Linked DNA regions of Homo sapiens. The protein of the gene in region 7 interacts with the protein of the main gene of each other region in a pairwise test. Each region holds a gene or a part of one and is shown on either strand. Other genes may lie near its edges.

Region 1 (4,422 bases), on a different chromosome or scaffold from region 7:
AATAGGGTTCTATTTTTTTTTTTTTTGAGACGGAGTCTCGCTGTGTCGCCCAGGCTGGAGTGCAGTGGCGTGATCTCGGCTCACTGCAAGCTCCGCCTCCCGGGTTCACGCCATTCTCCTGCCTCAGCCTCCCGAGTAGCTGAGACTACAGGCGCCCGCCACCACACCCGGCTAATTTTTTGTATTTTTAGTAGAGGCGGGGTTTCACTGTGTTAGCCAGGATGGTCTCGATCTCCTGACCTCATGATCCGCCCGCCTCTGCCTCCCAAAGTGCTGGGATTAAAGGCGTGAGCCACCGCGCCCGGCCGAAAATAGGGTTCCAGAGCGATTCTCTCCTCAGTAGAGTTTTTTGTTTGTTTTGAGACGAAGTCTTGCTCTGTCACCCAGGCTGGAGTGCAGTGGCGAGATCTTGGCCCACTGCAACCTCCTCCTCCTGGGTTGAAGCAATTCTTCTGCCTCAGCTTCGCGAGTAGCTGGGACTACAAATGCCAGCCACCACACCCGGCTAATTTTTGTATATTTAGTAGAGATGGGGTTTCGCCATTTTGGCCAGGCTGGTCTCCAACCCCTGATCTCAAGTGATCCACCAGCCTCAGCCTCCCAAAGTGCTGGGATTAAAGGTGTGAGCCACCGTGTTTGGCCGACAATACCATTTTTTTAGGGCCAGAAGCACCTAAGAGAGAGTTGAACCCTAACATCAAAAGCATATTAGGGAGGTGGAGGTTGGTCTGTTTCTCCAGAACACCCACCCCAGACTCTAGGGCCTTTGTCCTAATGGCCAGCTTCCTCTTGTGTCTCCCTAGCTAGACAGACCTCACTGTGCTGCTCAGTAGTGGGGGTAGAGCGGACTTTTCTTCCAATAGGAAGTCAGAGAATCTAACAGGAGATTCTTGGCCTTGGCACGCAGTTAAGGATCAGTTAATAGTTGTTGAATAGATCAAGGAGACGTAACAGCTAGGATCATTCTAGAACTGGAAAGATTGGCAAAAGACATGCCCATAGTTCCACATGTGAGCTCAGGGGAGCAGGGTAGATCTTCCCCTGAGATGCCCTCACCACTCAGCATCTATCTATGAAGCGTGTCCAAATTTGTCTTCTTTGAAAGTCTAGATTCTATTCTAATTTTTAAAAAATATCCAAACAGGGCCAGGTGTGGTGGCTCATGCCTGTAATCCCAGCACTTTGGGAAGCCAAGATGGATCGCCTGAGCCCAGGAGTTTGAGACCAGCCTGGGCAACAGAAAGAGACCCCCATCTCTACATTAAAAAAAAAAAAAAAAAAAAAAAAAGCAGGGCATGGTAGCCCATGCCTGTAGTCTCAGATATTAGGGATGCTGAGGAGGGAGGATTGCTTGAGCCCAGGAAGTCAAGGCTGCAGTGAGCCATGATCATGCCACTCCACTCCAGCCTGGGCAACAGAACAAGACTGTCTCAAAAACAGAAAGGAAAACCCCCCAAACCCCAAATGTTTAGTTCTGTACACATAAGAGATACTTAGCAAAAGTTTGTTGAATAGATGAACTGCTGCCTTACTTATGCATGAATACATCAAATATCTATTGAGCTTCGTTTTCAGGCACAATACTAGATCCTGGAGCTGTAATGGTGAGCAAACCAGATATGCTCTCTGCCTCGATAAAGCTTATAACCAAGTGAAGGGGAGACTTAAGTACACACACACATATAGCAAAGTACAAGGTTTTATGAGACCATTTAATAGAGGACTTCTCTTATTTTTTTTTGAGGAAGTGGAGGTACAGGCTAGAAAAGTTGACATCTGAGTGGTGAGTAGAATGAGCAGAAGTTGGGGGAAGGGGATGGGAGAATGTGCCTTGCAAAGGATTTATGGGAAAATCCTGACCCTCCCAACCCAATCCTCATTAATTCTCTAATCCTGGCCCTCAAATCCTAAATTCACTGTTGGTGTCAGTGCCTTTTACTCTCTCCACTTTTTCGTTCTGATCCCAGATGGGTACATGTGTCTAGAAACTCTGAGATGCTCCATAGATACAGAGAACTCTTAACTCATTATTTTGTAAATTAAAAAATAGAAAATATAGGCTTGTTCTGAAAATCCAAACAGCACAGATAGATATGATATGTAAAGTAAAAACCTTACCACATGTTATCCCATACCTCAGAAACAACTACTCATTATGGTTTGGGCATAGATCTTTCCAGGCCTTTTTCTATATGTTTGTCCATTTGTGTGTTATATACTATACATAAAATATTTTTTGCAAAAATTAGATCATAGCATATATTTTACAGCTCTTTTTCTTCAGTTAATATGGAAACTTCTTTGTTTTCACCATAGATCTGATACTTTCTTTTAAATGGCTGCATGATATTCTATTTAACTATCATCAGTTTATTTATTTATTATTGTTATTATTTTTCGAGACCGAGTCTCACTCTGTTGCCCAGGCTGGAGTGCAGTGGTGCGATCTTGGCTCACAGCAACCTCTGCCTCCCGGGCTCAAATGATTCTCCTGTCTCAGCCTCCCAAGTAGCTGGGATTACAGGGGCGTGCCACCACACCTGGCTTTCTTTTTTTTTTTTTTTTAGCGAAGACTGGGTTTCACCATGTTGGCCAGGCTGGTCTTGAACTCCTGACCTCAAGTGATCCACCTGCCTTGGCCTCCCAAAGTGCTGGGATTATAGGCGTGAGCCACTGCTCCCAGCCTATCATCAATTTAAACAATCCCTTATCGACTGACACTTAGATTATTATCCCGTGTTTGGTTATTATGCAGTGAACTTATATTTGAATTTGAGTTGTGAACTCTAAATGCACATTGTTTTAGGTCCAGTACTTACCACAGGTAGGTCATGGGAACTCTGAGGCTCTGTAATTTCTGAGCTCTCAGGATGAATAGGTGAAAATAGTCTGTATACATTTTTTGAGTCAGGGGATTTTTAGAAAGATTCAGGGCATCAAGAAAATACTATAAATGAAGTTAGGTCTTTAACTGTCAGGTGATTCCTTAGAAGCATGAAATACTTTTTGTTTACAGTAGACTAAGTGATTGTTTTGGTGCCAGGCCTCAAAATCTACTTTTCTATTGGACCTTACTACATAGAGTCACTCTCTTTTCCCTTCTTAGGTACTCCTTTTATTCCGTCCGGCATGATGCTACACTTCTCTGATGGGGTAGAGACAAGGTTTTCAGGACTTTGCAGACAAGAAATAAGTCTCCCTTTAATTTTGTGCCTCTAGAACATGGTAGGTTAGTTCACCTGCCCTCTTGATCATCTCAACCTTTGGACTTTGCAGGTGAGCTGCGTTCTCTACGGGAGGAGATTTCCCTGTTAGAGCATGAGAAAGAAAGCGAACTTAAGGAAATAGAACAGGAATTGCATTTGGCCCAGGCTGAGATCCAGAGTCTGCGGCAAGCAGCAGAGGATTCCGCAACTGAACATGAGAGTGACATAGCATCCCTGCAGGAGGATCTCTGCCGGATGCAGAATGAACTTGAAGACATGGAACGCATTCGGGGAGATTATGAGATGGAGATCGCCTCCCTCCGTGCAGAAATGGAAATGAAGAGCTCTGAACCATCCGGTAGTTTAGGTCTCTCAGATTACTCTGGGTTACAAGGTATGAGAGCCATCAAGTGGGTCAGTAAAGTCAAGCAGAGGAAAGGAGATAATATATAGGAAAATGGTAGAAGGTGGTGTTAGATCATGAATTGGGAATCTCTAGAAAAAACCTCCAGGTTGAATTCAAGACTGTAGGGGTCCAGGCGTGATGGCTCATGCCTGTAATCCCAGAACTTTGGGAGGCCAAGATGGGAGGATCACTCGAGCCCAGGCATTCATGAGCAGCCTGGGCAATGAAGTGAGACCCTATCTCTTTCTAAAAGAAAAATTTAAATAAAAATTTTAAAAAGACAGTAAAGGGGAAAAACCTACCCAGATGTTACATAACCAGTCCATGGTGGTGTAAGAAATAGCACCATGGAGAGGTACCCTGGGAATTCTTCAGAGAGTCATTGGGTCTTTGTTGATTTGACTATGGGAAAACCCTTCCTGGGAAAATTTCCAGCTCTAGGATGGGCAAAGAGGGACCTGTCACCTTGGGAAACTCTTCCTGCTGCCCTGGCATCATGGTGCTTTGCCTGGAATGCTTTATAGGGGGCCTCTGGCCCTGCTTCCAGGTGCAGGGATGCTAATTCTTAGGTTCCATTAGCTCTCCTCAAAATAGAAGCTTTGGGGGGCAACAAATCGGAACAAAAGACAGCTAGAGAAGAAAAGTTATTCTGAGTGATACATGAGGTACCCAAAAGCCTAGAGCCCTGCTTTCAGACAGTGAGTCTCCCAGCTAGTTGCTAGGATTCATGACATCAGAGAGTTTGCCTTTATTCTGAGGCTAGATTTATAATCTGAGTATAATGGAGGTCCTATATTTGGCCAGGTCAAG
Region 2 (4,312 bases), on a different chromosome or scaffold from region 7:
AAAAGAAGAGGTTTACGGCTGGGCACAGTGGCTCATGCCTGTAATCTCAGCACTTTGGGAGTCGGAGGTGGGCAGATCACCTGAGGTCAGGAGTTCGAGACCCAGCCTGGCCAACATGGTGAAGCCCCACCACTACTAAAAATACAAAAATTAGCCTAGCGTGGTGACGTGCGCCTGTAGTCCCAGCTACTTGGGAGCCTGAGGCAGGGGAATCACTTGAACCTGGGAGGTGGAGGTTGTAGTGAGCTAACGCCAGTGCACTCCAGCCTGGGCGACAGAGCGAGACTCCTTCTCAAAAGAAAAAACAAAGAAAAGAGGTTTATTTGGTTCATGGATCTGCAGGCTATTCAAGAACCATGGCGCCAACATCTGCTTCTGGTGAAGGTCTCAGGGAGCTTTCAATCATGATGCGCAAGGGGAAGGAGAGCCAGTTTGTAACATAGCGGGAGAAACAGCAAGCTGAGGTTGGGGGGGTGGTGGGCAATGCCATGTTCTTTCAAACAACCAGATCTCATATGAACTACAGGGAAAACTTGCTCATTACTGCAGGGAGGGCACGAAACACCTCCCACTAGGTGCACTTCCACCATTGGGGATCATATTTCAACATGAGATTTGGAGGGGACAAGCATCCCAACTATGTGAGAGGTTTGATGACCTATTTTTGAACCTTTGCATTTTCTGAATTCAAAAAAAAAATTCCCTATCAGAAAGAAACTGAAGCACTTATTTCCCAGAAACTAAGAAATGCTAGATGATCCATGCTTCTCTACAGCTTGGTGAGCTCACTGTATTTCCACTAGAATGGAAGCCCTCTGATGGGAGGGAGTTTTATCTATTCTGTTAACCTCTGTATGCACAGAGACTAGAACAGTACCTGACACATAATAGGTGCTCAATAAACATTTGAGTGAATGAATAAGGAACCTCTGCCCCCCCTTGGGACATCCTCCTGCTCTCTTCACTGGGACATTCTACTTCTTGTGTCAACCACAGGACTCCAAGTCATTTTAGTCAGTGATTTTAGTCATTTATTTATGTATTCATTGACCATTTCTCCTCCTGGCTCCTGAAGCCCTGGAGGGTAGCTGTTCCTTTCCAACTCCAGAACTTGGCTTGGTACCTGCTGGTGAGTCTGTGCCTATCAAATGCGGAATGAACGAAGTGTTTAGAAGTGAGGATCTCCTGAGCAGCTTCTTCCTGTGACTGAGATGGTGGATGAAGGGCTCTTCTGGGACCTCTGCTTTTATTTCCATGCTTGCTAAAGCAGCCAGCACATGGCTGTACTCAAGAGAACTTCCCCATCTACATTCCCATTTTAGGGCTGTGCTGTTTACAACAGCCTCAGATCCAGGTTGCAAGGAGGGGAGGGGAAGAAAGCACCCAGCTCACAGCAGGTGTTTATGAATCCTTCCTGCCAGCTTCAGAGAATCTAATTGGTCTGGTTATGTTGTGTTTAAAAAATTAACACATTGAATTGCTAAACCCATGTTGCATTAGTGCACAAACTATAGCTCTTCTCTGAAAGCTCCTCACACAGACAAGGGCAGACTTACCTTGTTTTAAAATTAGCATATTAAAATTGCTTTTCTGAGGACCTCTAGCATCCCCTCCCTCTACAGATAACAAGTATTGATGACATACTATCATTGTTTTTTTGACTGGGGGATATGTGAGTTAACAAAGAAAAGTTCTATCGCCCAAGCTTGTAAATTAGATGATTTTGTCCTGGGGTGTGCAAATCGACTTTCTCCATCAGGCAGCGCTTTGATCAGGGGCTGCAAGGAGCCAGCCTGTGTGAGAATGGCCACCTACACAGGAGCCTTTCTCTTCTTCCCCAGTTTCTGCAGCTAAGTGGTTGCCGTGGCAAGGCCCATCTTTTCAGCTGGGGGAGATGCTAGCCTTTGCAAGTTAGCTTTCTGCTACCCCCACCCCAGCCCAAAGAAAGGAGCTAAGCAAGAGGGAGATTAGGAAGAAGGAGGTAGAACAACTGGAGAGGTGGGGGGTTGGGTGGGGGGAGCGAGATGACAGGAAAAGGACAGAAAGCTGGGCAGCAGGGGTTCTCTCTGTTTGCTGCTTTTGGCAGGCGTACTCGGTGCCTTTTTATATTCTGCACTTGATTTGGAGATGTTCCCTTTTCCCTTGATAGATCAGCTTCAGGCAGCCAAGCTCAGCAGTGTTCTGCTACTAGCCTGCAGCAGCTTTCTTCATTTTCTGTACAAAGAGAGAGGGAGGAGGGAAGGAGAAAAACGAGGGAGATCGAGGACAGTGTTGAGACACCACCACCTCAAAGGTGCGCAGTGTGCGGCCAGGAAATAAATTACCACTTCTTCTCTGATCCAGGCCGTTTGACTCCCTTTTCCCCCACTTTCTTTCCTCCCACCTCCTTTCCAATCTTATTTTTTTAAATTTTCAACTCTCTTTCTGTTTAGATTCTACTTTCTATTCCTTGAGTTGGTCTCTCCCCTCCCCACCTCAGAGGGCTGCCTTTTTTTTTTTTTTTTTTTTTTTTTTTTTTTTTTTTTTGATGGTTGACAACAGTCTTTGAAGATTTTCTACTTCAAAGTAACTACTGATGGGCTGGTTGTACTACAGAAAGAACAAGCAGGGCCTCTCGGAGTGCGACCAACTGCTCCTGCCCAAGGCAAACGCTGGTGGGGACCATGGCTCTCCATGAGGCCATGGCGCTAGCGCATAAAAGTCCCGAGCAGCCCAGGCCGCCTTGCCATCCACTCTACACCCGAACATGGGTTTGCGGTGCACAGCGCCTGGTGCGGGAAGCTCCGGCCAAGCCACCGCCCACCTAGCCTGCTGAACGTGCCTCCTCCCTTTCCTTTCCACGTCCTGTAGAGAACCCACCGCCTGCCCAAGGAGATGACCCCCGTGGAACCCGCCACCTTTGCAGCTGAGCTGATCTCGAGGCTGGAAAAGCTGAAGCTGGAGTTGGAGAGCCGCCACAGCCTGGAGGAGCGCCTGCAGCAGATCCGAGAGGTAATGCGGCCTAGGCCTTCTTCCTGCTTCCGTCCACGGCGTGAGCGCTCGTATGTGTATGCGCATGTGCATGGGGTGCGTTAGGGTGTGCGCATGTGCGTGGGTTGCATGCGCATGCGCGTGGGCTGCGTGTGGGTGTGTGCCTGGGCGTGGGCTGTGTGCGCATGTGCATGGGTTGCGTGTGGGTGTGCATATGCGTGTGGATATGTGCTTGTGTAGGCGGGCCTGTGCGTGTGCGCATGGGCGTGGCTGTGGGCGTGCACACGGGTGTGCGTGCTCCTGCGTAGGGAGCCGAATGTTGCAACCCCAGGGCCTCTGGCCCTTCTGCTTCCTGGGTCACTTCTCCTTCTGACGTCTTCCCTTTCAGGATGAAGAGAGAGAGGGCTCCGAGCTCACACTCAATTCGCGGGAGGGGGCGCCCACGCAGCACCCCCTCTCCCTACTGCCCTCCGGCAGCTACGAGGAAGACCCGCAGACGATACTGGACGATCACCTGTCCAGGGTCCTCAAGACCCCTGGCTGCCAGTCTCCAGGCGTAGGCCGCTATAGCCCCCGCTCCCGCTCCCCGGACCACCACCACCACCACCATTCGCAGTACCACTCCCTGCTCCCGCCCGGTGGCAAGCTGCCTCCCGCGGCCGCCTCGCCGGGCGCCTGCCCCCTCCTCGGGGGCAAAGGCTTTGTGACCAAGCAGACGACGAAGCATGTCCACCACCACTACATCCACCACCATGCCGTCCCCAAGACCAAGGAGGAGATCGAGGCGGAGGCCACGCAGCGGGTGCACTGCTTCTGCCCTGGGGGCAGCGAGTATTACTGCTACTCGAAATGCAAAAGCCACTCCAAGGCTCCGGAAACCATGCCCAGCGAGCAGTTTGGGTAAGTGCCGGGCGGACCGCAGTGTCCCGTGTGGGGCTTGTCTCCCAGCCAGGTCCATGGGCAGGTGTGAGGTGGGAGCCGCATTACAGGCATTTAGTTTCTAAGAGGGCGGCAGAGTGCACGGCCGGGTGAGGGTGCGGGGAGCAGGTGCATGGGTCTTTCGTGTCACCAGCCCCCCGACTTGCTGAATTGTCTGATTCTAGGAGTCCCGGAGATTTAACCGGGTCTCTGGGTTGGGTGTGGTTCTTGGTTCCCCACAGCGGCAGCAGAGGCAGTACCTTGCCCAAACGCAATGGGAAAGGCACGGAGCCGGGCCTGGCCCTGCCCGCCAGGGAAGGAGGGGCCCCCGGCGGAGCTGGGGCCCTGCAGCTTCCCCGGGAGGAAGGAGACAGGTCGCAGGATGTCTGGCAGTGGATGCTGGAGAGTGAGCGGCAGAGCAAGC
Region 3 (3,811 bases), on a different chromosome or scaffold from region 7:
CGTGACAGTGTATAAAGCAGTTTAAAGATCTTAATAAACGAGGCCCTCATAGGCCCCTTGCTTGGGCCCACTGCATGGTGAACCATGTGCAGAAATGTCTTCCCAGCTGTGATGGTTTCACATTGTCATCGTCGTCCCCCCGGGAGGTTGGAGCATCAGGGGCCTGGACTCACTGGACTCTCCCCTCTCAGAGGTGCGGAACTATATCTGTGACGAATGTGGACAAACCTTCAAGCAGCGGAAGCACCTTCTCGTCCACCAAATGCGACATTCGGGAGCCAAGCCTTTGCAGTAAGTGTGAGTCAGGACCCCCTCCCAGGGCTGTGGCCCTCGCACCTTCTTATCTGCCTCTGTCCCCCAGGTGTGAGGTCTGTGGGTTCCAGTGCAGGCAGCGGGCATCCCTCAAGTACCACATGACCAAACACAAGGCTGAGACTGAGCTGGACTTTGCCTGTGACCAGTGTGGCCGGCGGTTTGAGAAGGCCCACAACCTCAATGTACACATGTCCATGGTGCACCCGCTGACACAGACCCAGGACAAGGCCCTGCCCCTGGAGGCGGAACCACCACCTGGGCCACCGAGCCCCTCTGTGACCACAGAGGGCCAGGCGGTGAAGCCCGAACCCACCTGAGGACGGCAGTGAGGATGAGCACCTCTAGCAGCCTGGACTCCGCAGTGGCTGTGTCAGCCTCACCCTTCGTGTGCACCCGCATGGGAGGGTCGGAGGGTGCTGCCCGCCCTTGGTGCTGGAGGCGGGCTTGGTGTCCGGCTCAAGTAGCCTTCCTCTGCTCTGGGACCAGTGGTTTATTTTCCCGCAAACGCTGAGTGACTCGGGGCCGGACAGTTCATAAATAATTGATTCCTTTCCCCACTAAAGCAGTCGAGGAGATTTGTAATCCACTTTTTAGTGCAACAAGAGCTCCATGTTATGCTTGTAATAAATTATTTACACGGGAGCTGGGCTGGTGTGCAGTGGCAGGTCCCGTCAGAAGAGATGAGGCTCCTGGGACAGGTCAGCGTCAGGGGCAGCCTGCTGTCTGCTCTGGAGGGCGGCGCTCACCTCTGGGTCGCAGTCCCCACGATCAGCCAGCAGCTGTGAGAGAGGAGCAGGTCCTCAGCCCATGCCGCCCACTAGGCCTCAGACCACAGGGGAGGGGCTCTGGCAGAAATAGTCGAGTTGTATTGCCAGCCAGGCAGGCACATGGCCCAGGCAGCTGTCAATTCTCATGTCCCCCACATGGCCCAAGGTGGGCATCTTGACGTTACCTCTGCCACGTGTGAGAAGCTCTTTTTCGGGCACCGAGGTATTAACTGCAGCAGAAAAAGACGAGCTTTTGTTATCAGTTCCACGGGGTTGCCCTAGAGAGAAAACAGGCAAACTCACAGGTTAGAAGACATACAGAAACAGGGCTGGTGTGTCCCCCATAGTCTGCATGCTGTGCCGGAACATTCTTTGGCAGAAGGAGCCTCCGGCTGGGGGGAGCTCCCCTGGAGGTGGGACTGGCCCTTGCACCTGCCTGACCCTTGAGCTCCAGGCTCCTGCCAGCTGGAGGTGAAACTGTGCTTGTATCCCCAGCCACGAAGAGCTGGACCAGCTTCAAGTACATGTCCACAGCAACATGCAGGAAGGCCTCTTCCCTGATGGCCGCGTCTTCATGGAAGTAGGAGAGAAGACTAGAGGTAAAGACATAGTGACAAATGGCTACAGACTGCTGGAAAGGTAGCAGGTGATGCCAAGGGATACTGCTCATCTGTGGAGCAGAGGCACAGACAACCCTTCCCATCTGGCGGGACCCAGAGGTGCTGAGATGGGGGTCTGGGAAACACTGCCCAGCCCTGACCAGCCCTGTGGGTGGAGGTACCTGTAAAAAGCGAAAGGCAGCAGCCTGGTGTGCTGATCCGGGGCCACACGGAGGAGGAGCCGCCCCAGCCTGAGGTCTGCAACACCAAGAAGTGGCTCAGGCAACTCTGGACATCTCTGCCTATTATCAGTGCTGGGGACACCCCTGGGGGTCGGGACGTGTACCCTGGGAGGCCTGGCTGTGGGGATAGTGTGGGGCGAACAGCCTGAGCTGAGGATACCCAGGTACCTGTCAGCAGCTGGGAGAGGATGGGGGGGTCGACCTCTTGCAGGAGGGTGGGTGTGGTGCAGAGAGAGGCAGTCCCCATGATAGGCCCATTGGTCCTGGGGTTGACCAGTGAGCCAGTAAATTATCTTATTGCTTTAAACAAGTTTGTGCTTAATCTGTCCCAACTAAAATGGAGCTTATAAACTTACTTAGCAAGGAACCTCAAGGAGGGCTCGTTCTTAACCATTTGCAAGATGCCTCTGAAAAGAGCGGCCCTCCGCATTTGTGCCTCAGCAGCGTGTTTCTTACCACTCTCTGTCAACTGAAAGAGTGCCAGCCAGGATATCTTCCTCTTCTCTAAACACTCGAGGATTGCTGCACAAACGTGGAAAGCCTTTGGCAGGTCTGTGGTGCTCTGTAAACCGCAGGAGACCAACCCTGAGAATGGCCGACCTGGTGCTCCCATGGGTAGGAGGGTACAGCCCTCAGCACAGAAGAGGGCATTTCCTCTTTGCTTATTGTAAGTCTTAAAACTGGTGACAGTTTTACCTATAGAAGGTAATACTGGGCCTCTGGACAGAAGAGGCTCAGGTAGGAGGCCAGGGACTTCGAGCACCCACACCAAGGCTGCTGCACCACGTCCTCAAATAAGACATTAAAAGAAAGGCCCACAGGCCGGATGCAGTGGCTCATGCCTGTAATCCCAACACTTTGGGAGGCCGAGGTCGGCGGATCACTGAGGCCAGTTCAAGACCAGCCTGGCAATATGGTGAAACCCCGTCTCTACTAAAAATACAAAAATTAGCCGGGTGTGACAGACTCACGCCTGTAATCCCAGCTACTCGGGAGGCTGATGCAGGAGAATTGCTTGAACCCAGGAGGCTGAGGTTGCAGTGAGCTGAGATCACACCACTGCACTCCAGCCTGGGTGACAGAGTGAGACCCCCATCTCAAAAAAAAAAAAAAAAAACCCACGGCCTGGGAGTTCTCACTCACACTTCCGCAAACACAAGGAGCTCCTGAGCTAGTCTGGAAACCCTGACTTGGAAGCTGGCTGCCTGGTGCCCCTGCCTGGCCCACAGTGGGAGAGGACACCTTGGCTGGTAAGGTCTGACTTACATTTGAGGTCAGATGTGACGACAGCAGGCCCATCAAGGAGAAGAAGAAAAGGAAAACCAATAGCTGTAAATAAAAACGTGCACTTATTATTACATTAAAATTACCTGTGCTGTCATTCTAAATAAGGCTGACACATTCCTCTTTAATTGAAATTTTTTACATCTAGGCCATAAATCCTTTAAGTGGATCTTAGAAAACTTTCCAATCACTTCTAGAGAGACAGCTTAATTGAGAATTAATTACTACTGGCTGGGTCATTTCACACTTGCCTTTAAACAAAGCTAGAAACAGTTTGAAAAAGTGACAAGAGCCAGAAAGAGAAGACTGCTGCGGTCTCCTTGGCTGTGCGCAGTCCCAACTCAGCATCATCTCCCTGCAAGGCCTCCTGTCAGAAGTGTTTGTAAAATCCTTGAAGATAAGCCCACAGGCTCCAGCCTAAAGTAGGGCCTGACTGGGCAGGGTCTCTGTGGACACTCCTCGCTGCACACTAGGGTCCTAAGGCCCTGGAGCCACTAAAATCCCTTCTAACAAAACTACACAAGAAACCTGAAGACGTACTCAGAAGAACCCCTGCAGGGTGGTTATAATCACCAAAACCCTGGGCGCTGCTGTCGATCCAGCT
Region 4 (5,186 bases), on a different chromosome or scaffold from region 7:
CCCCTCCCAACCTAAGGCACACCCTGTTTGTCAAGTGCCTATACCAACACCTGGCAGCCCCTCCACAGAGGCCTCAGAAAGGCAGGTGATAGCTAGTGACTAGGTTTCTTTCATCCCCAGATCTTGCCCTGTGGGCAGTGGCCATCCCCAGACCATCCAGGATTCTCCAGGTGTGCAAGGACCTACAGGATTTTGACAAATGCCAGCAGAGTGGCCTCTTTACAAATGGATGACAACAGGCTGTGAAAAGCTTTCTGCATGCGTAACCCAAAAATCTAGTTCCCCCACTTGTTCACTGATGCTTAAAATTGCTTTAGGGAGAGACAAAGGCTTTCATCTCACAAACAGAGAAAGCTTTGAAGGGCCTGGGTGAACTAATCTATTTAGACTAATACACACTGTTGTATAAATGGAATGAAGGATTAGATGATGCAATGGGCCCCTTTAAAATAGGTGTGAAGTGACACGGGATGTAGCAGAGAAAGATGGGGCTTTTCTTGCCTCCTTGGGTGCTTAAAACGAACAGTCTTGAGACCAGGTGCGGTAGCTCAAACCTGTAATCCCAATACTTTGGGAGACCAAGGCAGGTGGATCACTTGAGCCCAGGGATTCAAGACCAGCCTGGGCAACATGGCAAAACCCCGTTTATAAAAATATAAAAATTAGCCTGTCATCGTGGCAAGCACCTGCAGTCTCAGCTACTTGGGAGGCTGAGGTGGGAGGATTGCTTAGACCTAGGAGATTGAGGCTGCAGTGAGTCATGATTACCCCATTGCACTCCAGCCTGGGCAACAGAGCAAGACCCTGTCTCAAAACACACACACACACACACACACACACACACACACACACACACACACACACACAGTCTTGAAACCGGAAGACCTGGAGTAAAGTTGGGCCCTGAGCCCTACTGCCAGCTGTTCGATCACAGGCAAAATTACTCGAAGCCTTGAGCCTGTTTTTTATTTCCAAAGCGAAGGTAATACCTACCTTCAGAGTTTACTGTGAAACTTTGATGTCATCATGTTTGTAAAAGTGCCCTGGCACAGTGACCACATTCTACCCTATAAATATTTTCTATCTTTCCCTGTTGTCCCCAGGCATCTCAGGCTCTGTTCCTATCCACTCCATGCCCCTTTCTTAGCATTATAAGGTCAAGAGTGAGGAATCTGGGACCACGCAACCCAGATTCAGATCCTGACTCTGTCACTTGCTGACTGTCATCTTGGACAAGTTTAACCTCTCTGTGCTCAGTTCCCTCATCTGTAAAAATGGGGATAACAATAGTACTTGCCTCATGGGGTGACAGTAAGGATGAAATGAGTTCATGTGTGTAATGCACTTAGAACAATTCCTGGCACCAAAAACTCATTGTAAGAAGTGTTGTTACTATGATTCCTGAGGAATTCTCACCTGTCCACTTTCCACAAGCCGAAAGATCAAGCTCCACTTCTGCCCTCTCACCTACAAAAGCGCACCGTCAATGGCTACACATTCCGCCCCACCCCCAACGCCCCCAGCCCGGGTTTCCTAACGTCCCCAGCCCAGTCCTTAACCCTCCAGGCCGTCTGGTCCTTCCACCACCAGCAAAGCCCAAAACAGCTTTCAGCGTCCCCTAGCAGCGCCCTAGCGGGACCCTGGGAACCCGCCGCTGCAGGAGAGGCGGGGCGGCTCTGTGACGTCGCGCCCGGCGCTACCCCTGGTGACCTGGCAGCGGAGCCCGCGCAGGGTTTGCCAGGCGAAGGCGGAGCGCTAACGTCTAACGCTAACGGCGGTCGTGCCCCGCCGCTGCTGTCACCCCCGGCCGCTGCTGCCCTCCCCGCCGAGGTTCTACTGCTCTCCTTCTTAAGAAGGGTGGGAGGCACTCGGTCTCTCCCCACACCTCTCGCCTGAGGCCAGGCGCCAGGTGTCGCCTGAAGCCAGACAGCCGGTTTGGGAGCGAGCCTGAGGTAGCCACCCCGAGGGGAAGTGGAGGGAGGGCAGGGCTCTGAGCGCCCCGAGGGCTGCGCTGGTCTGAGGGAGGAGCCCTGCCGGACGCCCCCTGGATTCTGAGCCTCTCCTTGTTCACAGGGCAAGGGGAAGGCAAGGGGATCTTCAAGAGAATGTGACTGTGGGGGATTATGGCTTTCTGGCCAATTTGTGTGCGTATTTTGTACCCAGAATACTATTATACGGTTTCTTACCCGGAGGACAGTGGTTGGGAGGCTCAAGAGTTTGGAATCAGAGCCCTCCACCGAGGAGCCACACCTCTGCTTTTTCATCAGCGACAGGGATATAAAAATACCTCTGGGTGAATTGTCATGTGGATGTCATGGGCATACCTAGCACTTCATAGACTCCTATCACACATTATTTTATACCTAGCACTTCATAGACTCCTGTCAGGCATTATTTTATACCTGGCACTTCATAGACTCCTATCACATATTATTTTATACCTAGCACTTCATAGACTCCTATCACGCATTATTTTATACCTAGCACTTCATAGACTCCTATCACGTGTTCATTTTATAGCTAGCACTTCATAGACTGCTATCACGCATTCATTTTTACTAGTACCTATTGAACACTAAGTTCCAGGCACTGGGCTAGGCACTGGGATGGTGTGGTGAGCAAAAACTGACCAGTCCTGCCGTGGAGTTTGCTGGGGGAGACACATGTTACTCAAAGAATCACACTAAGGATAGGTAAGTGATGCTCTGGAAGGGTATGTACAATGGAACTGACAGGGTAATCAGGGAAGGTTAAGCAGACCTCCAAAGGAAGAATCAACCTGTTAAGAGGAGGAGAATGTATTCCAAACAAGAGTAACCACATCCCAAACCCACCATCTCCAATTCCAAACCCAAACAGGGATGTGCAGTTGCCTGTGCTTGGTTCCAAGTGATACTCATAGAAACCCTCTGAGATTCTGCCCTGGAGCCTTTCATTCATGTTACTGGAGACTTTCATTTATGAAACGGAAGCCCTGTTTAGCCCATACCAATAAAACCAAGTGAGAGATCCCTGAAACAAGGCTATAGTCTATTTTAAGACCTACATTCTTCAGCACTTGGCAGGTATATGTTGGCCTCCATTTTACATTGAGAGGCATGTAGGTTTCACTTAGGAGGAAATGCATTGAATTGAAAGAGTTGGGGTTATGGATAAGCTCTGGAATGTATAATTGAAGAAGACCTACACTATCAAGAGATTTAAAAATGGAAAATAACTTTACAAAATGTTAGAATTGAGGAATGTTAAGATAGAATGGACCTTTCTCCCACTTCTTTGATGTGAACAAATGACCCTTATTGCCCAAAGGCAGGAAAGCTGGGCTTTGGTGCCTCTTCAACTCAGAGAGTCTATGATTTCAACTCTGTGATTCAAAAGTGCATGGAACTCCTGAAAGTAAATGGGAACATGGGGGGATAATTTGACCTGACCCTCCTTTAGTGTTTTCTATTTCTACAAGGGTACCACCACTGTGCACCCAGTCATCCAAGCTTGAAAACTGATAGTCACTCTAGACTTTTCTGTCCTTCACCTCTTCCTCCTTCTCCACCTTCTCTTCTTCCTCCTCCTCCACCTCCTCTTTTCTTCCTCCTCCTCCTCCTTCAGTAGTTACCAAATCCTGTAGATCCTATCTCCTAAATACTTGTCTCTTATATCACTCCCTATTGCAACTACTTTTCAAGGCAGTGAAGCTCCTGGGAGTTGTCAAAAGTGCTGCCATATTCTCCTAACCTGGCTCCCTGCCTGAAGCTTCACCATCCTCTCTTCAGCTCATCCACACAGCTGTCAGTCAACGTGTTTCAGAGTCCAACAAAGAGAAATAAATCATATAGTAATTTTTTGAGCATATAATTTAACAAGAGAAGTTCAATATAAAGAATTGTTAATGATGGGATTGGAGTAATGAAGGATTGGCTAATATGTCAGGAGAGATCTAAAATATACAGGAATCACAGATATAAGGGGCAACCACTACCCCTGAGATAGATCACCCAAGGAAGAAACCTTTCCCAGAGCTTGGTGCATAGGGGATGGCCACAGCTGACTGGAGAGCAGAGAAATTGCTGAGGTGCCAGGCAGGCAAAATTTACTCTCTGAAACACCAGAGAAGCCATTCACTAAAAGGTAACTCACTGACAGCACTCTGCTATAGAGCTTCCCAAGAGAGGTGCCAGGGGACACTGCTAGCCATGGAGCACTGATAGCCACTGTGTACTCCAGCAGTTGGGCACTCAAAAGATCACACACTGCATGAAACAGATGCTAGAAAAGCTGTGTGCTACAGGATCCCAGCATAGGAGAAACTACAAGTTCCTGGAGCCTAGCAAGAAGAGCATACCTAAATTCCTAAGAGAAACCTCTTCCTCCTCCAGTCCTTCCAGTGCCCTGTCCTAACAAAGCATATCCTTATGACAGCTGACAAGGGAAAAAATGTTAAAGGACCTAGTTCAATTTTTGTGGAGGAGGCAATACAAGGTGAATTTGGAGCTGAGAGGCAAATATTGATAACCGGACCTAAAGCTAACACTGATTGTGTGACTCTTGTGCTTAAATTTTCTAGTGGTTCCCCATTGCCTTCAACAAAAAGTTCAAAAGCCCAAGCCTTGAGCTATATTTCCAGCCTTAGGCCCAACCACTCCTGCTTTGTCCACTTTAGAGCTCCATAATTACAGTTCCCTGAACTTGTCACGTTTCTGACAACCCCACATCTTTGCCTAAGTCCTTCTACCTACATGAAATTCTCTCCTTACTCTCATAAGTACACATATGCTTACTGAATACCTGCCCTGTACCCGGCTGTCTTCTGAGGGCTTGCAGTACAGCAATGAACAAACCAGGTTTTTCCAAGTCTCAGTTCAGATATCTCAGATATCACCACTCTTTGAAAAGTATTTTCTGACCTCCTTCTAATACCTGCAGATGTTAGATGCCTCATCCAAGAGTTTTTCTTCTGTTTTTCTTCTGTTCTTCTATATCTAGTGCAGGCTTCTTGACACTTATTATACCTTCTTTGAGTCACTGATTTTCCTGTCACTCTCTTCCACTGGACTGTGAGCTCCATGAAGCAGAGTGTGTGACTTATTTATTCATGTATCCCAGTATTCAGCACAATTCCAATAAAACACATAAATTTTGTCAGATTAATGATTTCCTAAGGATCACATAATTAGTCATAAATAGACCCA
Region 5 (4,422 bases), on a different chromosome or scaffold from region 7:
CAAACATGGAAAACCAAATATTAAATATTTTCAGAATATAATTGACTATTTCTCAAGTAACATAGTTAAAATGGCTCCCCCAAAGTAAATTCAAAAATAGCTTATTCCCATCAGCTAGCTCTCAGGCCCTTTCCAAAAACCTGGAAAGACCTTTCCAAAAACCACCTGGACTGGACCCTGACTACCACAAACATTCTAAAAGAAACTTAGCCCCCAAACAACCCCTTCCACCACCATCCTTAAGCAGGATGTGCCCCTGAAGCCTGCCACTCACCTTCTCACCTCCTTCAACCTTATGGTTCTCAACCATCTCCGTAGGCTGGGAGTTCTTAACTTAGGGTCCATGATCTTGGGAATGGTCCATGTACTTTAATGGGAATTTGGTTTTAATTCAAGTTAAATCAATTATCCCCAACTTTTTACCTATATTAAAATGTATTTTCTTATATATCACAAATTTAGTTTAGTATTTTGGTAGCTATTACTTCAATACAACTGATTTCCTTTGTAATCTCATTTACTTCTTATTTTTTGTATTTAAAAACAGTATTCTGGGAAGGAGTCCATAAGTTTCATGAAACTACCAACATGGTCCATGACACAGAAACCGATGAAAATTCCTGCCCCACATACATATCCCCAACTCTAATGTTCTCCTGTTCTCATTCCAAAAGAACTTGGCTGAGCATTCTCTGCAACACACCCCCTTAGTCTAGACTTAGTCCAGACTCCCCCACTTCCAGTCTCCCTACTGGCCCCTTTAATTCTGTCCTTTGGAGTATTTACTCCATGGAGACTGAATCCATGACCAATTTTGCTCTTTGCCTGGAACAAATCCCCTCCACCTCTCCCACGCTGTTCCAGGGTTGTTCTACACGTCCCACGGAATACAGCAAAAGTAATGGTATGTTGCTTCCTAAATCAATTTATAAAAGACACTGCAGGTTTCAAAGACACTGGATCACTCTCTTGTACTCTGTGCCTCTCTTGGATCACTTGTTGGGGGTAAAACCAGCTGCTGTATCATGAGCATCCCTGTAGACAGGCCTGCATGGCACAGTATTGAAGCCTCCTGCCAAAAGCCACCTGAGTGGGCTTAGGAACAGATACTCTAGCCCCAGTTGAGTCTTTTGACAACTACAGCCCTGGACCACTTGACTGCAACCTCATGACATCATGAGCCAAAACTATTCAGCTAAGCAGCTCCTGGATTCTAACCCTCACAAACTCTGTGAGATAACATACATTTGTTGTCTTAGCTGCTAAGTTTCCAGACAATCTGTGATACTGCAATAAATATACTGATGTTCGATCATCATCCCACTGTTACTCCTCAGACTGTCTCAGGAGCTCAATGACTCACAATGGCCCCTCTAAAACCTTGTAATAATCTTCTACCTACCTTTAGGGGAGCCCCTTAAGACTTTCACCCTAGTTCACAACCACCTTCTTTATCCTGGCTCCTGTCACCACCAGCAACTACAACTCCACATTGACAGCCCTTCCAATATACAATAGACAACACAACTAGGCACCACAACACAAATGCAGCCAGGCCTTCGACACTAGAAAAACTCCAATTCTTCTATCTCATGTTCCAAAACCTGGATCCCTCTATCTGAAAAGTTCCCTTCTCCCTTATACTCAATAAGCCTGCCCTTTTGTTTTCATCATGGCCTTCAGTCTCTCAAGCCCCCCACCCCGGCTTCACTGGAATCTTACCAAACTGGACACAGGGGTTAGCTACTACAATCATGTTTCCATCTAACCTTCAAATTTTTTAATCCCCATACAGTGCCCTGCAGTGGTTCCCAAATATTGGCAAATTTGAATAAACAAATATGCAAAAGTATATATGAAAGATGTATACTGACAAAATTTGAATCCACAATTAATATGACTCTCTGCACTTTTACTCTATTTCTCTTACCATTAAAAAATGTTACCTTGGCCAGACACGGTGGCTCATGCCTATAATCCCAGCACTTTGGGGGGCCGAGGCGGGCAGATCACTTGAGGTCAGGAGTTCAAGACCAGCCTAGCCAACATGGTGAAACCCCACCTTTCTAAAAATACAAAATTAGCCAGGCATGGTGGCATGTGCCTACAATCCCAGTTACTTAGGAGGCTGACAAAGGAGACTCGCTTGAACCCAGGAGGCAGAGGCTGCAGTAAGCCAAGATCGTGCCACTATACTACAGCCTGGGCAACAGAGTGAGACTCCAGCTTAAAAAAAAAAAGAAAGAAAAAAAAAACCTGGATAATGTAGTCACATTCTGAATAATTCATACACAATCTCTATCATTGGTAGCATGTACCTAGTTATGTAAGCCAGAAACTGAAGAATCAACTTACATCCACACTGTATCTTCCCATATCCAATCAGTCTACTTCTTCAGACTGAGGGCCTGTCTCAGTCTCTCCAACCCTCTAACCCTCTTCCCATTTCTAAGGCTACCCTTCTGGGTACCCTTCTATGGCTACCCTTCTGCCCTTCTGGCAGAAGTTCTTGCCAGCACCTCTGCAACTCCCTCCTAACCAGGCTCACCCCTCTCCAGTGTGCAGCAGCCAAAACACAATCTGCTCTGCTCACTCCCCTGCGCCCATACCTAACACCATCCAGTGCCTAGGGATAATCTTCAAATTCCTTGACACAGAAGATCCTTCGTAATCCAGCCTCTGCTTATCTTTCAGACTTCCCTTCTCTCCATTCCCAATCACCATCTCAGCCATGCTTAGTTACCTGCAAGTCCCTAGATTCACCACAAATTCCACCATCTCTGCCCCCTGTAAAAATGCTTTCCTCAACTTCCCTTCTCTCCCTTATCCACTTCATGTGGCTAACTCCTAACTCTTTCTCTTCAAATTGCAGCAAAAACATTACCTGCTATAAGAAAGACGACAAGACACCTCAAAACTCTTCAAGTACTGGCATAACACTTGGCATTTACATCTACCAGGGCACAGGCTGCACAGAATTACCTGTTCATTTCTCTACTTTGCTGGAGATTTAATGAAGAAAGAGCCAGTATCTTTACAATTGTATCCCTTCTCAGCCTAGTGCATGGCACACAGTAAATGCACAATAAATATCTGTTAATTGAATGACTAAAGAATGACAGATACATCCCAGGTTTGTATGAACCAAACATGATGAGTCAAACATTGTTGTGACTATTCAAATATTTGAAAGCATATACCCTTAAAAATTAAGTCTCTTAAGTTTAATGTTATTTTTAAAAGGGGGTAAAAGAATTCAAAACATTTTAAAGCTGCTTAGAGAAACATTATAAAATCAAAAATGAAAACTAAAGAACAGGTTTCTTTAATATAAAAGAACATTTAACCAAAACGCCAAACTTACCTCTGTAAGCAATATTGCTAGCATATCCTGCCTCTGAAAACGTATAGCCAAGTGTACAAGAGTATAGCCAACATCAAAGGCAGAAGGACGATTCAGCAAGCGTACTTCATCTGCGGTGAGCTGACGTGCAATGTCTCCTCCTGATGACTTGTATGCTTCTATGGCAGCTAAATCACCTTCTACAACCCCTAAAACAAGCATCAAGATAGAAAAGCATTTAATTCTCATTTTCTTCAAAAAACACAAACCGTAGCAATCACTCCAAAATCTTTTAAGTGTTTCTCTGTGCTTCCTGGATCCTGATGCATCATTTAAATGTCCTATAAGAGTAAGGAAAATAAGTTTTTTCCTTTCCCTTTAAAAATTTTCCTTCCAGAACTAGAACTGCCTAGACATTTACCTTACCATCAGTGCAGGCTCCAGGCTCTGGTGAGATTTAGAGGAACTATTAGGCTGCATGAATTGGATCGAAGATCAATAATCTAGTATGAGAAACCAGACGTAACAAGAGACACTGAGCCCCTGGTTCCGGTCCTGCGTTCATCCTGACTCTGCAGAAACCAAGGAGACAGGGATGTGCTTCCAGCTGGTGTTGAGCTCCTCCTGCCCTTTACACTGCATTCTTAAAGCAGAATCAAAACAAATGCTGAGCTTTCCATACTGCTCTTTAGCTTTGAAACAACTTAGAGCAACTGAAACCATCTTCAGTGTAAGTAAACGTTGGCAACATTTTGATTTCAGATTCTCATAGCCAAGTCTTCCTTATATCCATTAAGAATTATTAATAACGTAAAAATTGGACCAGATGATTTCATATAAAATACGCTAAAATAAAACATTACAATCCAGTTAGAGTAGGGGGGAAACAGAAATATCACTTCTGCCAAATCTATAAAGAACATTCCATTACCACTGAACCATTTTATTAATCTTAACACAAATTAATGTTAGGTAAACACAGTAATACTGTCTACTAAGCAGTCTGGTAAAGTATGGGTATCAGCCTGGGCAAAGAAACAGTAGATTAGCTTCCAATTTACCACAAAAAGTGTTTAAAA
Region 6 (4,422 bases), on a different chromosome or scaffold from region 7:
ATGTTTTTAGCTTGTGGGCATGCAGTCTCTGTAGCAACCCTGCTATTGTAACACAAAAGCAACCATAGACAATTATGTAAAACAATGAGCACAGCTGTATTCCAAAAAACCTTTATTTATAAAACAGGCAGAAGGATTTGGTCCACAGGTTATAGATTCCAGAACATTCATATACAAGTTTTGTGTAGACATCCTAGTGAGTGTGAAGTGGTATTGAACAACTCTGGTTGCAGAGGGAAAATATAACAAAAATTAAAGTAAAATAAACTGGTCAGATAGGACATGTGCCAAAGGAATGCACCGATACTATTACTATGCCTAGTCATTGATTTGTCCCTCATCTTTACGAGGGTTCATCTATCAAATAAATTCACAAGAATAAAAATCAAAAAGGATGCCTAATTAAAAAGCAATTCTCATCAGTTTGATTTACCAATGCCACACAGATCAGAATGTAGTTCTTTTGAGACATATCAAGATAATACATTATCATGGCTAATGCTTACAGCAAGTCAGATGTTTTGGAGCAAAACCCTTGAGTAATCCAGATAATTTAGGCTCAAACCTGGCATCATCAAAGGATCCTGGAATCCTCTGTATCTTTTAAGAATGTTTGTTGATCACCTAGTATACTTTCAAAGGTTCTTCTACCCTTTTTGGTCAGCACTCATAAAGACTGGAGAGCAAGGAAAAAAAAAGACGAAAAAAATACTAACCTGTTCATCTACTGAATCTCCTGTGCCTTTTAAGGACTCCATGGAGATTGAAGCATCAGTCACCCTGGAAGTCTTAAGTTTAACATCAGCTTTTGGACTCATCAGCTTGTGTCTTGATCTGACATTTCCTTCAGCAGAAATTCCTAAGGATTTCCATTAAACAAGATTTCAAAATTATACCTTATTATCTTAAACCCTCCCCCATCAACTCCTTCCTTGGAATCCTCTACTTTAAGGGACCTGATGGAGGAAACTCTCTTACTTTATAAACTTAATTTTAAAGCTCTTAATATATGAATCATAAAAAGAATATGTTTTAAAGAAATACACTAAAGATTGAATTGAAATTTGTTTTTATATTTATTTTTTTAAAGAGACAGGGTCTTCCTATGTCTATCCAGGCTGGACTTGAACTCCTGGGCTCAAGCAATCCTCCCACCTCAGCCTCTGGAGTAGCTGGAACTACAGGATCAAGCAACCACATCCAGCTTAACTGAAATATTTGTAAAGGGTACTGTAAATATTCATAAGTCACATTAAAACCAATAAATTACGATATGCCAAATATATGTTAACTTAGGGGAAATCAATGATATTTTTCACCCTATATAATGAGGGTGCCTTCAATAGTTGCTTTACTACCATCTAGTTACAACCATTAAACTTGAAGTGCCTCTTACATATACCCTGTATCAAGCAGTAGTCACACTTTTATTTGAAATATTAAATTTGGCTATCATTTGTAAAAGAAAAAATAAGAAAAGAATCTTTTGCCCCTTGCCACATGAAGTGTTCTACAAGTTCATTAAAAGCTGATTGGGCCAGCCAATCCCAAAGATAAGCCAGTATTTCAAACCTTAATAGGGTTATGACAAATATTCAAAAAAAACAAATTTTAGGTTTTGATGTACTGCTCTGCATTCAGTTATTTATACCCGCAACATTGTTCTAATAGCTTTATTTTCTTCTAACATTTAAGGACCAAAGTAAGCTTCCCAAATTTTAACATAGAAAATCATACCTGGAACGTATACTACTGATTGTTCTTCATCAGAAACTACGCAGGAGAACATGAAGGAAAATACAATAATATTATCCGGCATCCAAATGCTGCTTCTGTTCTGTATACCTCTTATAATTCATAATTTCTTTTGACCTGGGAATTTGTAACTAACTTTTAAAAACAAAGTTAGAAAGCAAAGTAATTGAATTAAAAACAAAGTTAGAAAGCAAAGTAATTGAATTAAATGTAGCAAAATTAATATTCTCTAAAAGTTCACCTTTATATATTCACAACTACACATCTTATAAAAATCTTGGAAGGTCTTGTTCCATGAAACTTTTATCCACTCTCAAGTGGGTTACCCTGCAATATATACTCTACTATTAGGTTCCTTTCCTTTTGTAAACAAAAACTTAAGTGCTCCAGTTTGGTCATTACTGAGGAACTGACAATTCTGAAGAGTAAATAATTTCAAGATAGACTTTAGCTTTGAAGAACAAACACTGAGGGCAAGTCAATCATGCAAACACAAAGACATTATTTATTCTTCTACAGTGTATTCATAAAATATCCCAAGAAGCCCTACTATTTAAAAAGTAGAAGAAATTTAAGACAAAAAGAACTATTTTGAATTTCAAAAGGAGAAATTTAGAAAGGCTATGATTATAACACACTGTTTTCAACTGTCACCTTGATCCAACTCAACTTTTCCTCTCCCAGGATTATTGCAATAAGCTCCTAACTGCTCTCTGTCACTTCTGTGCATGTTCCCTTAACAGCCTATTTTTTCACACAGTGGTTAGAATGATCATTTTAATAGTTATGTCATTTCTAATTTAGATTAAAAGCCAAAGTATTAACAACAGCCTGCAATGCTCAAGATCTGATCCCTGTAACTTGTTACATCTCTGATCTCACTTGCTACTATTCCTCTCACTCATTCCTGGCTTTCTTATAATTGTTAACAAGCTATGCAAGCTCCTACCTTATAGCTTCTGCAGGTATGATTTCTTCTACCCAGGAAGCTCTTTCCTCAAATATCTTCATGGCTCACTTTAGGACTTATGTCATATGTCATGTCATGTCACCTTCTGATTGAAGCTTTCACTTCCTAACCATATAGGTACTTGAAATTGCAAAACTCTCTCTTCCCACAACCTACCTACCTCCCGCTACTATCTGCCTCTTTCCTGCTTTATTTTTTCTCCACAGCACCAATATCATTGAACATAGGCCAGGTGCAGTGGCTCACGTCTGTAATCCCAGCACTTTGGGAGGCCGAGGTGGGCATATCACGAGGTCAGAAAATCGAGATCATCCTGGCTAACACGGTGAAACCCTGTCTCTACTAAAAATGTAAAAAAAAAAAATTAGCCGGGCATGGTGGCGGGTGCCTGTAGTCCCAGCTACTCCAGAGGTTGAGGCAGGAGAATGGTGTGAACCCAGAAGGCGGAGCTTGCAGTGAGCTGAGATGGCACCACTGCACTCCAGCCTGGGCAACAGACCGAGACTCTGACTCAAAAAAAAAAAAAAAAATCATTGAACATATATTTTCCTTATTCATGACCTGATCTCATCTCACTAAAATGTAGGCACCAAGAGGGTAATGATTTTTGTTTTATTTTGTTCAGTGTTGTACCCTCAAACATAAAAGAATGTCTGGCTCCATCTATGAAAGAATAAAATTGGTATTGATTTAATTTTATGAGGTGTTGTCCAACAACCTTATATGTTATATTTCTGTGATTCTAAATATGCAAACAAAACTTTTTTTTTTTTTTTTTTTTGAGACAGAGTCTCGCTCTGCCACCCAGGCTGGAGTGCAGCGGTTTGATCTCAGCTCACTGCAACCTCCACCTCCTAGGTCAAGCAATTCTCTGCCTCAGCCTCCCGAGTAGCTGGGATTACAGGTGCCCGCCGCCACACCTGGCTAATTTTTTTTGTAGTTTTAGTAGAGACGGCCGTTTCATCATGTTGGCCAGACTGGTTTTGAACTCCTGACCTTGTGATCCACCTGCTTTGGCCTCCCAAAATGCTGGGATTACAGGTGTGAGCCACCGCAAGCGGCCAACAAAACCTTTTACTTTCAGCTACATCCATGACAAATTTATTTTCAAATATATAAAACTCTAAACAAACTACTTCAATATTTTTAATAACAATATTTGAAATTGCCTCTATCCTTTCTAATAATTTGTAATGTATTTTCATCTCATTATATTAAGAACCCAAATATTTACCTCCTTCAAATCTAGAATTTCCCAACAAATGTATATTTTATGGGGAAGTCAAACAGACACATTATATACCAAATGTATAGTGGGCCTACTAGTGGGTCATTTCTAGATTATTTATAATACCTAAAACAATGTACATGCTATATAAATAGTAGTTAAATTGTACAGTTTAATTTGTATTTTTTTGTGTGCTATTTCTTTTTTTTCTCAAATATTTTCCATCCACATTTGAATGAATCAGCAGATACAGAGGGCTAACTGTAATTAGAAACCCAGGCAGAAGTGGTAGAGAGGAAGATGCACCTCTATCCCAGACCTCCAGGATTTGAAGGAAATAAGTTCAGTACTGCCCATTCTACTCTAATCTGCTGAGTTTTGCCAGCAATACATGTATATGTAATTATTATCAACCACAGAGACTTTCTGGGCTAATATATTATTTTTACCACAACATACAGTCTTTGTT
Region 7 (4,422 bases):
GTAACTCCTCTTCAGAGGAGGACACATACAAGGAGGAAGACTGGCCTAAATCAGGCTCTGAAAATGATGTCATTAATGAGACAGGGTGATAGGAGTTCTTTTCTGATACAGATCTAAATGAGAAGAATAACTATGTTATACTTTCAGTTGTATGTGACCAAATATAAAAATTAAGAGTTACATATTTTCTTTTTTTTTCTGAGACAGAGTCTCACTCTGTTGCCCAGGTTGGAGTGCAGTGGTGTGATATCGGCTCACTGCAACCTCCACCTCCCAGGTTCAAGCAATTCTCCTGTCTCAGCCTCCCGAGTAGCTGGGACTACAGGCTTGTGCCACCATGCTCAGCTAATTTTCTGCATTTTTAGTAGAGACAGGGTTTTACCAAGTTACCCAGGATGGTCTCAATCTCCTGACCTCGTGATCTGCCTGCCTCCGCCTCCCAAAGTGCTGAGATTACAGGCATGAGCCACTGTGCCCAGCCAAGAGTTACATATTTTCTAAGATCAGGGTATAATCAGAAGCGAGGAGCTGGACAGGGCTTGTAAGAATCATCACTTTTATTTGGAATAGAGCTGGGCAATGCCCATAAATTATCCACTTTGACTCCTTCATTTTACAGGGAAGGAACCTGAGATGGCAGAGGGTCCTTGTGTCTAACCTCTATTAAATTCTCCCCACTTTCCAGAGTCACTGTCCTGAAGCATAGATCTGATCATGTCATTCCCCTGCTTGAAACTTTTTGATAATTCCTCACTGCTACGAAGTCAAGCCTAGATTACAAGCCCTTCGAGACTGGCGCCTATCTTTTCAGTCTTACCCCTCACCACTGGCTACCCCAGTCTCCATTCTGCATTCATATCCAGTCCTGTGAAGTTCCTCACACACGATATGATTTCTCATGCCATCTTGCCTTTGCATACATGGTTTCTGCTGCCTAGAAGGCCAATACTTATTCCTCCTCCAAGACTGAACTCAGATGTGACACTTTAGTGGAAAATTCTGGCCTGCATCCCTCTGAAAGCTTGGCATGACCAACTGCTTCTTCCTCTGTAACACTCTGTTACATCATGCTGTAATGCAATTTTTGGTTCTCAGCTAGTCTCTAAGCTCCTTGAGGGCATCTTGTTTTTGACTCCTCAGCGCCCAGGCATAGTCTGGCACAAAGGAGACATGCAAGCATCGCTGACTGACTAGATGTGTAAGTCTCAGAGCAGGTGAGTTCACAGCAGAAATGGGTCTTGAAATTGCAGACTATTTTGAAAACATAAATCAGATTCATGTCTCCTAGTCCTGAACTCTTTGTACTAGATCTTTAATGAGCTCATGTTAATCCACATATTATAAAGAGCTTTTAAAATTAAACTTTTATATTTACCAGTTAAAATGGCACAGACTAAGTATTTTGATACATGCCCTCAGTTCTATGGGTGGGTCAGAAAGAAAAGACCAAATGGCCACCAAATGACCCTCAAGCAAACGGTCATCCAGTAAGCTGATAAGCCATTAAACATTTTGAATAAAATCCTACCTCTGTATATCGTTGGGAGTACAAAGGGCTATTTAAGAGAAAATATTATGAAGTAACTTTGTTCTGTCCTTTTAAGGATACATTTTATTTTATACTCCACAAATAACATTGAGTTACAAGCTTACCTGGAAGAGTCACTAAGAGAGTCTTCTCTGATGACCACTGGCTGAACTTCCTTTAAATGTAATTTATCCTGGTACATTTTCTCTAATTTTGCCATAGTTTCTATGTGGGCAGCCTTCAACTCTTCTACTTTCTTGAAATACTCCTCATTAGAGTGGTGAATATCAGGAAAGTTCACAAAGTCCTCATAGCTTATCGGTGCATGTTCATCCACCCCAGAAAAGCTGGTGTTCAAATCAGCCTGGTGGGGAGAAAACACTTGATATATAGTGACTGGAGCTGAAAGACAAATTAAGCTGACACTGATCCAAAATGCTGCTTCTTAAAGAGTCCACCTAGTTAGGTTATACATTAATTATGGGCTATGCATATAGAATGAGTTATAGGTTATTTGTGGGCTATGTACATTTTCCCCAGTGATATTTTAAGAACGAGAGGGAGCAAGACCAAACTGTCAGAAAATAAATGTTATTTAATCCATTTGATAAAGGATGGTTCAATTCCCAGATCAACCAACAAAAGGTATAATAGGATAGAACCCAACAACCCTTTACAAAGTATTTCTATAAGGAGCCTCCTGAGTTGTAAGTTTTAACTGAGATGAAGAGGAACACGGTTCTACCTGCTGTAAACCAGGCAACCACAGCCCAATGCTCTCCCTCCAGCTGCGCTCCTGCAGTGTGGCTCCAAGGACTGCCAGTGGAGAGAAGGCAGGGAAATAGAGGAAATGGGGGCAGGGACAAAGTTCTCAGTGGCTTATCAAGGAGCCAGGGAGAAGCCCTCCTCACAGTGGGGCAAGACTTTGGGAGGGAGTAAGAGGACATGGGAGGGGGTAGGAGGGACTTTCAGGGTAGCTGCTTCTGTGGGCACAAAAGCAGTAGCTCCCATGGGTGACCGGGACTTTAGGATGACAACAAAGCAAAGAAGAAAAAATGCTGTAATTATTCAACATACAGATCATGTTTAGAAGGGTCTGACTGGCCTTTCTCCCTCACTCCCTTTACATACCTTTCAGTTTTTTTGTTTGTTTGTTTGTTTTTACGAGACGGAGTCTCACTCTGTCACTCAGGCTGGAGTGCAGTGGCACCATCTCAGCTCACTGCAACCTCTGCCTTCTCCTGCCTCAGACTCCCAAGTAGCTGGGATTACAGGCGCACACCACCACACCCAGCTAATTTTTGTATTTTAGTAGAGACGGGGTTTCACCATGTTGGCCAGACTGGTCTTGAATTCTTGACCTCAGGTGATCTACTCGCCTCGGCCTCTCAAAGTGCTGGGATTATGGGCATGAGCCACCGTGCCCTACCCTTTCAGTTCTTTTAATTGAAGCAACTAAAGAGATAAAACCCCATTTTCTCCATAAATATAAAATTTTTATTATGTTCTCAGTTGAGAAACAGTTGAAATTATTTATGATACTATGCATAAAAGGCTGCCAACCACAGTTTTAAATTTAGCCTACTGTCTGGAACAGATGCAAAATGAAAAAATTTGCTACAGAAAATTATAGATCCAATCTGATAAGACTCTAGAAAATAATCTGTTTAGCTTCTCTCAAAATAAAAATTCAGAAGAGTCAATTATAAATAGTAGTTATAGATGTGGTATTTTTGTTTCCCACTGGAGGCTTCTCAGAAGATATGGTATTTTTTTTAATACGCTAAAATCAGCATACAAGAGGACAATGTTGTACTACTTGGGGTAACTTAAAGAAAACAACTTTTAAAAAATCAGTCTTCAGAGGCCGGGCACGGTGGCTCACGCCTATAATCCCAGCACTTTGGGAGGCCGAGGCAGGTGGATCACGAGGTCAGGAGATTGAGACAATCCTGGCTAACATGGCAAAACCCCATCTCTACTAAAAATACAAAAAATTAGCCAGGTGTGCTGGCGGGCACCTATATTCCCAGCTACTCGGGAGGCTGCAGCAGGAGAATGGCGTGAACCTGGGAGGCAGAGCTTGCAGTGAGCTGAGATCAGGCCACTGCACTCCAGCCTAGGCGACAGAGCGAGACTCTGTCTCCAAAAAAAAAAGCAGTCTTCAATAGAACTTACGTGCAGAAATTTGCTACCAACAACTCTATGAATCAGAGAACTGCTTTAACTATGTCAAACAATTCAATTAAGAGAATTCTCTGATATCTTCTGCTGTTTCTTTATGTGCTTCTCACCATAAACTTCTTATCTGCAGGATGACTACTTTGTGAATTTCCTCATTCATTAAATATTTGGGGGCCATCCTGCAATCAGCTAGCTGCTAAAATGTACGTCAGATTTTTTTTAAACTCTACCTTTGAGGCCAGGCACAGTGGCTCACACCTATAATCCCAGCACTTTGGGAGGCCGAGGCAGCCAGATCACTTGAGGTCAGGAGTTTGAGACCAGCCTGGCCAACATGGTGAAACCCCCTCTCTACTAAAAATACAAAAATTAGCCAGGCATGGTGGCAGGTACCTGTAGTCCCAGCTACTCGGGAGGCTGAAGCGGAAGAGTCACCTGAACCCAGGAGGTGGAGGTTGCAGTCAGCCAAGATCGTACCACAGCACTCCAGCTTGGGTGACAAAGCAAGACTCTGTCTCACTTAAAACAAACAAACAAACAAAAACTCTACCTTTGAGAAGTTTCCAGCTAGCTTAGGAAAGGACATGTATATAAATAATAGACAGCTGACTTAGAATGAGACAGAACACCTGATTCCTGCCCACAAGCTACTTCCAGCTAAGCGGAGAGACAGATGTATGTCACAATGTCAGACACTAAGAGACAGAGGC

What was found.
Region 1: the proteins of FAM161A (region 7) and CCDC136 interact in binary tests that used the Homo sapiens proteins (3 or more experiments, as listed by UniProt).
Region 2: the proteins of FAM161A (region 7) and AXIN2 interact in binary tests that used the Homo sapiens proteins (3 or more experiments, as listed by UniProt).
Region 3: the proteins of FAM161A (region 7) and ZNF276 interact in binary tests that used the Homo sapiens proteins (3 or more experiments, as listed by UniProt).
Region 4: the proteins of FAM161A (region 7) and ROPN1 interact in binary tests that used the Homo sapiens proteins (3 or more experiments, as listed by UniProt).
Region 5: the proteins of FAM161A (region 7) and ZRANB1 interact in binary tests that used the Homo sapiens proteins (3 or more experiments, as listed by UniProt).
Region 6: the proteins of FAM161A (region 7) and KIAA1328 interact in binary tests that used the Homo sapiens proteins (3 or more experiments, as listed by UniProt).

What each region holds. Positions count from the first base shown.
Region 1 is NC_000007.14:128,797,910-128,802,331, forward strand, and holds part of CCDC136 (coiled-coil domain-containing protein 136), read left to right. Parts: intron 1-3,276; coding exon 3,277-3,600; intron 3,601-4,422. UniProt on the Homo sapiens protein: May play a role in acrosome formation in spermatogenesis and in fertilization.
Region 2 is NC_000017.11:65,536,882-65,541,193, reverse strand, and holds part of AXIN2 (axin-2), read left to right. Parts: intron 1-2,850; coding exon 2,851-2,991; intron 2,992-3,358; coding exon 3,359-3,870; intron 3,871-4,130; coding exon 4,131-4,312. UniProt on the Homo sapiens protein: Inhibitor of the Wnt signaling pathway. Down-regulates beta-catenin. Probably facilitate the phosphorylation of beta-catenin and APC by GSK3B.
Region 3 is NC_000016.10:89,737,615-89,741,425, forward strand, and holds the end of ZNF276 (zinc finger protein 276), read left to right. Parts: exon of another isoform or gene 1-106; coding exon of another isoform or gene 107-191; coding exon 192-291; exon of another isoform or gene 292-361; coding exon 362-632; 3' UTR 633-986; coding exon of another isoform or gene 987-1,094; 3' UTR 1,095-1,267; coding exon of another isoform or gene 1,268-1,360; 3' UTR 1,361-1,514; coding exon of another isoform or gene 1,515-1,675; 3' UTR 1,676-1,863; coding exon of another isoform or gene 1,864-1,939; 3' UTR 1,940-2,379; coding exon of another isoform or gene 2,380-2,485; 3' UTR 2,486-3,189; coding exon of another isoform or gene 3,190-3,252; 3' UTR 3,253-3,311; downstream 3,312-3,811. Other genes in the region: FANCA (Fanconi anemia group A protein), read right to left, coding at 987-1,094, 1,268-1,360, 1,519-1,675, 1,864-1,939, 2,380-2,485, 3,190-3,252. UniProt on the Homo sapiens protein: May be involved in transcriptional regulation.
Region 4 is NC_000003.12:123,988,688-123,993,873, reverse strand, and holds the start of ROPN1 (ropporin-1A), read left to right. Parts: upstream 1-1,749; 5' UTR 1,750-1,952; intron 1,953-2,515; exon of another isoform or gene 2,516-2,693; intron 2,694-5,186. UniProt on the Homo sapiens protein: Important for male fertility. With ROPN1L, involved in fibrous sheath integrity and sperm motility, plays a role in PKA-dependent signaling processes required for spermatozoa capacitation.
Region 5 is NC_000010.11:124,965,724-124,970,145, reverse strand, and holds part of ZRANB1 (ubiquitin thioesterase ZRANB1), read right to left. Parts: intron 3,553-4,422; coding exon 3,365-3,552; intron 1-3,364. UniProt on the Homo sapiens protein: Ubiquitin thioesterase, which specifically hydrolyzes 'Lys-29'-linked and 'Lys-33'-linked diubiquitin. Also cleaves 'Lys-63'-linked chains, but with 40-fold less efficiency compared to 'Lys-29'-linked ones.
Region 6 is NC_000018.10:36,831,671-36,836,092, reverse strand, and holds part of KIAA1328 (protein hinderin), read right to left. Parts: exon of another isoform or gene 2,705-4,422; intron 1,891-2,704; exon of another isoform or gene 1,820-1,890; coding exon of another isoform or gene 1,774-1,819; coding exon 1,738-1,773; intron 860-1,737; coding exon 717-859; intron 1-716. UniProt on the Homo sapiens protein: Competes with SMC1 for binding to SMC3. May affect the availability of SMC3 to engage in the formation of multimeric protein complexes.
Region 7 is NC_000002.12:61,840,469-61,844,890, forward strand, and holds part of FAM161A (protein FAM161A), read right to left. Parts: intron 1,893-4,422; coding exon 1,654-1,892; intron 114-1,653; coding exon 1-113. UniProt on the Homo sapiens protein: Involved in ciliogenesis.